Linked DNA regions of Homo sapiens. The protein of the gene in region 1 interacts with the protein of each later gene in a pairwise test. Each region holds a gene or a part of one and is shown on either strand. Other genes may lie near its edges. The genes, in order: SLC9A1, MAP4K4 and WNK1.

What was found.
Region 2: the proteins of SLC9A1 (region 1) and MAP4K4 interact in a two-hybrid assay, tested with the Homo sapiens proteins (one large-scale study listed by BioGRID and IntAct).
Region 3: the proteins of SLC9A1 (region 1) and WNK1 interact in a two-hybrid assay, tested with the Homo sapiens proteins (one large-scale study listed by BioGRID).

Annotation. Positions count from the first base shown.
Region 1 is NC_000001.11:27,148,595-27,152,323, reverse strand, and holds part of SLC9A1 (sodium/hydrogen exchanger 1), read left to right. Parts: intron 1-3,729. UniProt on the Homo sapiens protein: Electroneutral Na(+) /H(+) antiporter that extrudes Na(+) in exchange for external protons driven by the inward sodium ion chemical gradient, protecting cells from acidification that occurs from metabolism.
Region 2 is NC_000002.12:101,854,707-101,858,206, forward strand, and holds part of MAP4K4 (mitogen-activated protein kinase kinase kinase kinase 4), read left to right. Parts: intron 1-1,270; coding exon 1,271-1,432; intron 1,433-3,500.
Region 3 is NC_000012.12:884,929-888,657, reverse strand, and holds part of WNK1 (serine/threonine-protein kinase WNK1), read right to left. Parts: coding exon 2,574-3,729; intron 1,438-2,573; coding exon 1,354-1,437; intron 1-1,353. UniProt on the Homo sapiens protein: Serine/threonine-protein kinase component of the WNK1-SPAK/OSR1 kinase cascade, which acts as a key regulator of blood pressure and regulatory volume increase by promoting ion influx.

The DNA.
Region 1 (3,729 bases):
GGCAGACACACTTTGAGTGTCAGTGGCTGCTGGTGGGATGACAGCATGACTGCAGAGACCCCACTCTAGGCAGTCAGAAGTTTGTCCCTGCAGGCCTGGTATCTCTAGTGCTAATGAGGTCAGCTTGGCCTGGCCTGCTTTGTCACCACCCAAGTGCTGTGCCCGGGACCCTGGGCAGCTGGAGAGCAGAGATGGTGTCATGGCAACAATATCAGTCTAGAAGTCAGGAAAACCTGGCTTCTCTTCCTACCTCCCTCTGTCCTTGGACCAGTCACGCCTCCCTACCCATCAGTTGATCTTTGTGGTCCCTTCCAGGTGTGATATTTCTGTCATTCCACTGACTCTGGAAACTCTGGCAAGTCACTCAGCCTTGGACCTCAGTTTTCCCATTGTAAAATGATGAGGCTGGATGTGGTCTCCTTTCCAAAAGTCTGTTTCTGCCTTGGAAAGGCATTTTTCTGCCTCTGAAAACAGGAGTTCTAGCATCTGGCCATGAGTGGAGAGAAAGGTGGTCTAAAGATCTGAAGAGTCCCTGTTCAGGCCTCAAAAATGAAAGCCCATTTTTCCCAGCTTCACCTTTGCAGTGTGGAATTCAGCCACCACTCTGCCACTTAGCAGCATCTCTGAGCCTCAGTTTCCTCATGTATAAAAGGGGAACTAAGCTGGGCGCAGTGGCTCACGCCTGTAATCCCAGCACTTTGGGAGGCTGAGGCAGGGTGGATCGCCTGAAGTCAGGAGTTTTGATACCAGCCTGGCCAACATGGTGAAACCCCGTCTCTACTAAAAATACAAAAAATTAGCTGGGCATGGTGGCGGCTGCCTGTAATCCCAGCTACTCTGGAGGCCAAGGCAGGAGGATCGCTTGAACCCAGGAGGCGGAGGTTGCAGTGAGCCAAGATTGCGCCATTGCACTCCAGCCTGGGCAACAAGAGTGAAATTCCGTCTCTAAATAAATAAATAAAAAAAAATAAAATGGGAACTAATAGTATCCAGTTATAGTGCTATTAATGTGATTATTACATAAATAAATGCACATAAAAGTTTGTATACACAGGAAGTGTTCAATGAGTGACAGCTGCCCCTGTTAATATTTTAACCACCTACAGCAAATGCATCCCTACCTCAGCCTCCTACAACCTTCCTCTGAGCTGAAGGATTACAAATCTCTCAAACCTAGGCTGCCACCAATGTCCTTCCTTAGGGTATCAGGGTTTCCATGTGTCCTATACTGTTCACTTGAGCTGGTCATGGCGGGAGGGAAGATGACACCAGCTGCCTTGTAGGGATAAGGGTGGGGGGCTGAGGCCATGCTCCCTCTGCACTCTCAGATACCCAAGAGCCTGGGAGCTGATTTTGGGGTCTTGCCTATTCTCTCAACACCCCTGCGTGGGTAGGAGTTCCGTTGGAGCCCTCATTCTGTCATCTATGGCAGCTGCTTCCCTTGCAGGTTACCCCTCCTATAAGAATAGAAAGTGCTTTGCAGTTCTCCTTCCTACCCTAACCATGGAGCAGAGCCTCGGGTAGACTCTTGCAGAGACTGGGGTGGGAGGAGCAGGGTGGGAGCTGAAGTTCTAGAATAGTTGCTTCTGGGTTCTAGTCTACCTCTGACTCAGTGGGTGACATTAGGTAAGTCACCTTCCCTCTCTGGACCTTTTTTCTCTCCCCAGCAGTCAGGAATTCTTGCTTGTCCTTGGTGGGGAGGGGCCAGTGGTGTGAAGAGGATTTAGGCTATTGGGAAAACTGTGGGAATGACTCCAAGCCTTAGGAGTTAGGTGCATTCCCCACCCCACATTGTGCTGTGGACCCCGCATGAACTCTGCTTTGTTCCATGTTCACCTGACTCCCAGGCTAGTACTTATTCCAGAGGAGAGCCTCACTGTAACTCAGCTCACCACTGGCATCTCCTGCAATTGTTTACCCATGTTCCTGACCCAGAATGCCTGGCAGAGGCCCGGGAGCCCATAAAGCAGGTATTCATCTTGTCTCCTGACCAGGGACACAAAAGGCTTCTTTTGTCCCTTTATATCTTATAGCTTTTTTTGGTTTTGGTCTTTGCAAGGCGAATCCTGCCATCTCCTCTGTAGATTAAGTCTGTGAATAGGGGAGATGGGGTCACTGCCCACTTCACATGCATGGATATCAGACCCAGCAACTGGTTTCCTATAAAAATGACACTAGAAGGTGCCTCTCTCACTTCTCAAAAGAAGAGAAGAACAAATAGCCTAAAGGTCACCTTGAAACTGTCTCAAGAAGCCCAGATAGGACTCTAAAAAGGAAGCGATGACCTTTTTCTCTTTGGGAAAATAGCAGACTGACTGCAGAACAGTGGGAGGGAGGTCAGCTGGGGACTGGGAGGAAGGCTTCAGGTAGGACATGTGTCTCTAGGAGTGCCAAGGCACTTAGAGGGCTTAGTTGGTCAGATTGCCCAGACTTCATTCAGCTGAGCACCCTCGAAGTTTGCCTTTCCTCTCCTTCCAAGCCAGCCCCATGGCGTCCAGCCCTGGTACAAAGGAAAGACGTAGTCAGAAGCCCTGGGTTCTGCTCCTGATGCTGCCTCTCAGTACCTGTGTGACCATGAACCTTGAGGTTCATGCACCTCATTCTCTGAACCTGACTTGCCTCATCCTTAAGACCAACGTAGAGGCTGAACGTGGGAATGCCTGGTAGAGTGCCCAGCTCACTGTAGTAACTTTCAGGGCCGTGCAGATTCTTCCCCTTTTGGGAGGTCTTCCCAGCCCACAGCAGTCACTTTCTCTTTCTCTCCCAAACCCTTTTCCCTTATTGTTTATCCATAACAGTGGCATTAGGCCTTGCCTGCCCTGTGACATCTCCTGTGTTGAACGGGTGTGTGTGTTTTAATAATAGTTGCCACTTAGTATCTACAGAGTAGTGTCAGGCACTTTATAAAAGCAATCTTATTTAATCCCTACTCAAATCACATGAGATAAAAGCTGTCTCTGTTTTGCAGATGAGGAAATGGCTCAGAGAGGTTATCTTCAGTGATGTCAAATTGCTATTTATTGTCTGTTCGAGTCTTGGCATAGCCTGCTAGAGGGGTGCAGCTGCATCTCCTGCCTCTGGCATTCCCGCAGCAGATGCACATGGCCCTGCACTGAGAAGCGCCCAGCTCACTGCACCTGCACTCAGGAATTGTAGGACTCCCTCTAGGAGTTGGGCACATGTCGTTGGTGGGAGCCCTGTCCCTGCCTTGAGAAAGCTGTAGGTGTTCTGTGTCCAGCTGTGCACCTGTCCTTTGTTTTTGTGAGTCTTCTTGGATGCACCTGAATCCTGCATTCAGGAGGCCTATCCCTTGTTCTCTGCTAGCAACCCTGCCTGCTATCTCTCTTCCGGTGCCCTCTCAGCCATCAGACCAGAGCTTGCTTCTTCCCTGCTTGGGCAGGGAAGTGCCAGGTAAAGGGTGGTCTCCTTTAGCCACAAGGGGTGGCTGACCTTATGACCTCCCGCCTCTGAGCAGAAAGGTGACAGGCTGCTTTTGGTTACCCTCAGGGCCCAGCAGAGTCCCCTGAGAGGCAGCCTCTGTTGGGAGCAGGTGGCACAACTTTGTTTAGCTCTACAAGGCAGGAGGAGTTTAATAGTACTTCTCATTAGCACTGAAATTTGTTTCCAAAGCACTTGTGTGTACAATATTTAATTTAGATCTTCTCAGTGGTCCTGTGGGTTAGAATAGCATGTGGTATTGATGTGTTCATCATTTTACATCTAAGGAAA
Region 2 (3,500 bases), on another chromosome or scaffold:
TATCCATTATAAATATGTCTAACATCCCTGATAGCTTTACCCTAAGCTTTCTTGTTTAATGGTTAATTTTAGTGTCACAAATAAAGTTTGTGTTAATATTATTGGCTCTCTGTGTCTGGGAAATTTGATGGCTGTGCATCCCCTAGAGTTGCTGCTACCCAGTAGCCACTAGCCACATTTGGCCATTTAAATTAAAATTAACTTCAGTGCAACAAAATTAAAAACTCAGTTTTTCATTCATGCTAGCTATATTTCAGGTGCTCATTAGCAACACGTGACTAGTGACTACGGAGCAGTGCAGAGACAGAACATTTTTATTATCCCAGAGAGTCCAGAGTCTAGCTTGTGCTTTACTGGCAGACAGCCTTGAGCTAGAAGAGTGAGTTGTCATCACGTGCCTGGCATGTCATCTTGCTCTGTTCTGTAGGGTTACATAGAACAGTCTGGATTTAGAAAGGCTGAGTGAGTCTGGTGATTCAGTAGCACCTTTTACACCTGTTGATGGGATGCAGGGTAGAGGGTGGTTAAGAGTATGTATGGGCCGTAGAGGCAGAGCAGCTCTTCCAGCTGGGGGCTTGCTGGCTGTGTGACTTTGGGCAAGTCACTTACCTTTTCTGAACCTGCTTTCGCATCTGTAAAGCAGGGATGAAATAATGACTTCCTTGGGTTGTTAGGAGAATTATATTAGGTAAAGTAAGTGGAATAGAAATATCAAATACTTAGCATAGTGCCAGGCACATAGTAGTAAGCATTTGCTCAGTAGCAGTTTCTGAAATACTTATATTAATAATAATGGTCCTGGTTATTCTTGTTGACGTCAGTTCCTCTTTTCCTGATGTGTGCTTCTTTTTTTCCTTTTTTAAATTCTTTGTCTGTCTTTGCTGTATTTCTATTTCCCTTTATTTCTTTCTCTTAATGTATTTTTCTTCTGACTTAAGGGTCCTGCATAACCCTGTTAATGATATCCACGAATAAAGAATTTTCTGTCCCCTAATTGCTGTGGTGCAGTGAGCAGTGGGGAATAATTGTTATCAAAATGAAACTAAACCCTATAAGGATTCACAGAGTCACAATACTTTTGACCAGCATTCATGAAGAAGCCCTTACTTATGGGTCCGAGGGGCAGTGTGGAAATAATTGGCCAGTAGATATGGGGCCCATGAACCTCACCTCATTAGTGTCCACCTGGCACTGACTGATCAGCACACTATAACATCATGAGAAAGATGGCGGGAAGATCCCTGGTAATTATACATTTTTACTTACGTAGCAACAAAGGAGAGAGCGGGAAGCTAGAAGGCAGCAGGAACGTGAACAGCGAAGGAGAGAACAAGAAGAAAAGAGGCGTCTAGAGGAGTTGGAGAGAAGGCGCAAAGAAGAAGAGGAGAGGAGACGGGCAGAAGAAGAAAAGAGGAGAGTTGAAAGAGAACAGGTTAGTTCACAGATAACATAGCAGGCATACACTTGTGAAGTTTGTTACTTTGCAGAGCTGGGGGATTTTTAGAAAGTATACACACATGTGATGCATACACACATGTACACACATACACATATACTTAGAACTTCAGATGTATGAACGTGGTGAAACACAGTTGGAATGACACCAATAAATTCAGTCTCTTGTCTTAAAAAGGGTTTATAAATCATTACACTTTAGGAACCTGTTGAAACCAGTTAAGTGGTCTCTAAATAGTATAATACCTGAAAGATGTCTGCATGTATCTTCTCAGGCTTGGCTTAAATGCTGTAGACCCCAAATATATGGGTGATAATTAACTTTTAAAAAAAAAATGAAATTAAAAACCAACAGTAAGAAATTTCTTAGGAGAAATATTTGAATATCCAGTGGCTAAGTGAATACTGTAATATATATCAGCATGTAATTCTGTATATACACAGCACATTAAAAAAACTAACATTGATGAGTTCAACCAAAAAAGATCAGGTTTTAATAATATTTGCAGCATTTTATTAATGTCAGGTATGATTTTATTTAGAATTATTTTTTTGTTTCCTGAACCACCTGTACAAATACAATTTGCCCTTAGCCCCTTTGCCTTTCTTGTCTTTGAATTGATCTCTTTGTTATGAGCTTGGAATAAAGAAAAAAATGATATGTGAGGACCAATTTAAATAGCACTTGGTATCTGTATTTTAAACTTATAAACCATGGTGTTAACTTTCAAATGTGACTGTTCAGCTGCCGTCCTTTATGCTTATCATGTGTCTTGGGCTTTCTAAGCTTGGGTCTGCATGCTCCTCGGTGTTTTCCCAGGAATTTCAGTGACGCTTTTTATGTTACCTAATTGACGTTGTCAACCATTTAACTGTGTAGCGCGTGTGCTTTAACATTCCACTTATGTTTATACCTGGGGTCTGCAAAGAGGAAAACATTCAAGCTTTTAAGAATTAAATCACCTAGAAATAATGATTACAGTTCGATCATGAGAGGAGGGTGTGATGGTAGCAATTCATCTTTAATGCTCTAGTGGCAGTCATTAAATTTTGTGAATAGCAAGTATTTGGCACCACTTTTAAAAAAAAAAATTCTAAAATCGGTTTTATTCTGTTTTTCCCTGTTCTATTGTGAAATAGTAATTCCCATGTTAACAGTGCTGTAGGACGCATTTCATTTCAGCATAAGTGTGTATGTTTGTGTAGATGCGTGTTGTGTATTGTTTGTTCATTGACTATGTGTTAGGACCTTTGTGGTTTGGAGAGGACATGATTTTTCCAGCTGTCCCTGTGTTGAGGGCAGAAAACAAATGAGTGTACTGACTTGATCTTTCGAGTTAAGATTTAATTCTGTTTTGTTCAAAAAAGAAAATGAGTTGAAAGTCAGGTTCCTTTGCTCCGTCACAGTTGGGTTAAGGCCACAAGCCTTGCTAGGGTAGGTATTGCTGTAGCATGTACCATGGAGGGTCAGACATAGACACAAGAGACGTAGATCCCAGGTCAGAACCAGATATGTTTGTCAGTAGCCTTCTGACTAAGTCCGCCCCACCCCTCTGCCCACACCCCCCCAGTTGGCTTTTTTGGCTCAGTTTTCTTTGTAAAGTAAGGTTTTCTAAGGATTTTTATATGCTGTAATTTCAATATTCTCCCAGAGATATTGGTTAACTAAAACTTCTGTTCAGCCCATATTGATGGCTATTTTTGTTTCAAGGTGTGCACCATGACACAAGGGGATGGTCAGCAGTAGACACTCTTAAAAGGGAATCTGAATTTCAGGATAAAATGTCTCCTCGTAGTCCTTCTTAGTCTATTCCTCTTCTAGAGCTTTTTTCCCTGTCCAAAAAAAGGAAGCCTCTTTGGCTTGTAAAATGTTTTATGCTTTTCAAGGTTATTTCATATCAATCTCATGTCTGAACCTTACAAAAATTCCTGAGGGTTGGGAGAGGAGATTTTGGATGCTCATTTCTCAAATGAGGAGACTGAGAAAAGGGGAGCTTTAGAGCATGCTAGGGATCATAGAGCCAGTCCTCAGTGGAACAGGGACT
Region 3 (3,729 bases), on another chromosome or scaffold:
CATGTATACTTCTTCCCTACAGATGGTGGCAAGGAGGTCTGGGTATTCCATCCTGTTAACCATTCCATCCACCGCAAGCACACAGCTTCCTTCTACCCTTCCACAGTCTAATCCTACATCTGTCTTGGCTTCTATCAATCTATTCTTGCACAGTCTTTGCTTAGGCCTTTCCCTCTATCTAGGCACTAGCTATTTACCCTTACCCCTCCACATGTCTCACTTGCTATTTTTTGTCACACTTTATACTCCCTTAGAAATCTGAATCCATGTTTTTAAATGAGAAAATAAGTTTAAAACTAATTTTCTAACTCCTGATTTACGGACTTTCACAATGCACTTTCCCCCAAATGTGGTGGCTGATGGAGTGCTTTCTCTGTTGGGGTTTTTACTTCATTGTGGCAAGTTCCTCAAATAGTGTTCCCCTGTACATTGGGACCAAAGAAATAGGGATAAATTCCAACTCAGCTTCTCAAGTAAGCAATTTACCATGTTTTTCTTATTTCTTATATATGATTCAAAAATAAATTCCTAATTTAGTTTAAAAGTTTACTGGCTTGTCTCATGTCAGAAGATTTTTCCTGGTCACAACAGATTCACAATTAGTACTTTTCTTATGGAAATTCAACAAATGTGTTGGCGGTGGACTGCGGTGGGAAAGAGAAATAATAAATATTACAGGTAATTCTGTCCACCACTGCACTCAAGTGAGCAGAACTGTGTGAGATGGGAATCTCAAGTTCATGAGGCTGGTCTCAGTTCCTCCATGAGTGATCTCATAATGTTAGCATCTCACTGAGCTCGGTGGCTTTTATTTTAAAAGAGACAGCACACATAGTTTTCATGAAACATCACCCCTATACCTACCTATAAGTAAGCTAATTCCTTCATTAGGTGGCTAGTGAAAGAAATGATCAACATTCAAGAAGAGACTGGTTGCTCTGGACTCGCGGAAAAAGTTTCTCAGTTGCCATATTGTGCTTCTCCTTTCTAGGGCACTCTCAAAGTTAATTTTGATTATATACGCAATTTCGCTATTCTACAGAAGTGTGAGTGATAAAGGGAGCTATATGGGTCTGACAAAATGTTTGCTTTGCTGTTTTCTTCCTTCATAAGATATAAAAAAAAAATTAGTATCAAGTGTTTTTGGATAACCGGAAGCAACATTACAAACAAAAGAGCTATGAAGCTTCTTACTTAAGTAGGAACTGGGTCATTGGTTATAACATTTTAAAAGAAAGGTGTTACTAAGTCAAAGACAAATAGGCAAAAGCCAAGACCACGTAGTGGAGAACTTCAGCAAGCTTTGTCAAAGAAAGTAGGGCACAGGAAGAAATTTGTCAAGTCTTGAGGCACCTGGGTTAGAGAAGGTCCTGGAAAAGGTGGCAGCTGCTCGCTGGGTAGAGTACCTGCTGGAAGTTCAGTACCCACTGGCAGCACCTACAGACAACAAAGGGAAAATCAAGTCCGTGAGACGCTAAATATAAAGACTGCGTACTGAAGAGCAAATCAACTAATTTGAATGCACAAACATAAGAATAAAATATATATAGTTAAGACATGTTTATCACTGAGGTTACTCTCTGGTATCTGTCTTAAAAAAACGGTGTGACAACTAATGTTGTTATTATAGGGGTTACTACGATATACCTATAAAATGAATAGTAAAATACAGTAAAAAGTTGTCCCCTAGGGAGAACAGAACAAAGGCTATATGTACATAAGTGGCAGTGTCCAGATATTCTTGAGCTACTTATTTGGTACAGTATGTATCAGACTTTCGCCATGTAAAACAAGATTTTCTGAGAAAAGAAAACAGTAACTGGTTAAGAAATAACCAATGGGCAGGTCTGATAACAAAAGGCATCAGAAATCTAATACTATTATCAAGAATTTCTATTTTATCTGAGTGAAGATTCTGCATTATCCTACTATAAAAAGAACCTCACATCAATGGCAATGCAGAAAGAGGCTGAAGCATACAATACAGTAGACGTAACACAGCCTTGTTATTTGGAGAAGGTGGCAGAACAAGAGGAAATCCACCACAGCATAATTAGATAATAAATTTTAGTTACTTCAGTCCTAGGATTAGATTATTTATTTCTCCTCTGTATCAATTTCCTTACTAACTTCCAATTTTTTATAACCCCCAAACTGTACAACTGTGGAATCTACAACAAAACCAAAAATTTGCTTCATTCTCACTGAAACAAAGACTATGAACTGCTATTATTTACGTACATTTTGCTGACAGATGCATTTAGCTCCCTTTTGGGATACAGACTTCTTCAGTTTGTACCAATTCAGAAGAAATACCTGTATTTTACCCGATAATTATACCATCTTGGAAAACTGTGCAGCATAATTAACCCTAAAATCCTGCCACACTTGAAAAAAAAATCTCATGTTCATTGTAGATATACCCTCAAACTGCTGTCAATTTAATAAATACTATAAGCCAGGTACCTTTATAAATATGTTTCTAACTTACAAGGCTGAAGTGAAAAATGTACTCATTAGGGAGAAAAAAAACTGATCATATTTATCTAATTATTTTATAACAATAATTTTACCGGAGCCTTAGTTAGAGGTGGCTTGGAGGGAGCAGTTCCAGGTTTCACTCCTGATGTAGTAGTGCTGACTGGGGTAGAAACTTGCCCAGGTGTGACCACTGGTGTAACTGGCAAAGCAACTGTTCCTAGTGGTAAATTGGTTGGTGGTAAGCAAGTACTTGTGGTAGAAGTCAGGAGTTTGCTTGGTGCAACAGCAGTAGTTGGGATGCCTGGTGTGACAGTGCTCTCTATGACTAGTGAGGTCTCCAGTGAGACAGAGGCATGCTGAGCTCCAGATGAGCTGTGTTCACTGAACAGAGACCGCAGCTTTTCTTCTAGAGTCTTTATGTCATCAATTCCAGGAGCTTTGGGTTGTGTATCAGAATCTACTTCAGGACAATGAGTATGGGGCTGGTTGGGAAGCAAAGCTGGTTGAGGCTGACTATGAATTAGTGTCTGCTGTACAGCAGGCACATTGGCAACAGGCTGTACCAAGGGTGGGATACTAGGTACTTGGGGTAATAAAGGTGTAGAAGTAGGTCCTGCTGCTTGGGGAAGAATAGGAGTAGAAGCTATCACTGATGGAATGACCAAAGGATGCAGCCCACCAGGCTGAGAAATATAACTAGACACTCCTGCTCCAGGAGAGGAAGAGGAAGATGGTGCAGAGAGGGAGAAAGCCAATCCAGTTGTACTGCTATGAGATGTCTTATCTAGTGAGTGTGCGCTAACTACCACGGTTTCAGCTAAAGTAGGAGTAGAAGTACTGCTGCTAAGCTGAATGCACAGCTGTGAAGCTGTGCTTGGGAATGAAGTGGTGGTAGAAACTGATGTTAATGTGGCTCCCACAGTAGTGCTGCCTGCTGCCTGCTGAGATACTACAGCTGGAGGCTTAGGACCTGGGGTAGCAGTACTGCCCCCTGCAGAGGCTGAAGTTGCTGAAACTGTTACTGAAGGATACAGTGCTGTACTAGAAACAACGATCTCAGATGTGGATGTGGGGACTTGAAGTGACGGGGATGTAGTAGATATTGAGACAACTGCAGGTATTGTGATACTTGAAACTACGCTGGAAAGTACTGGTGATTCAGACACAGGTGGTATGGGGAGACCACCTGAAGTTACCACACCTGTGCTGGTGGCAACTCCAGCAATCCCCTCTTCAGTGGGCACTGTA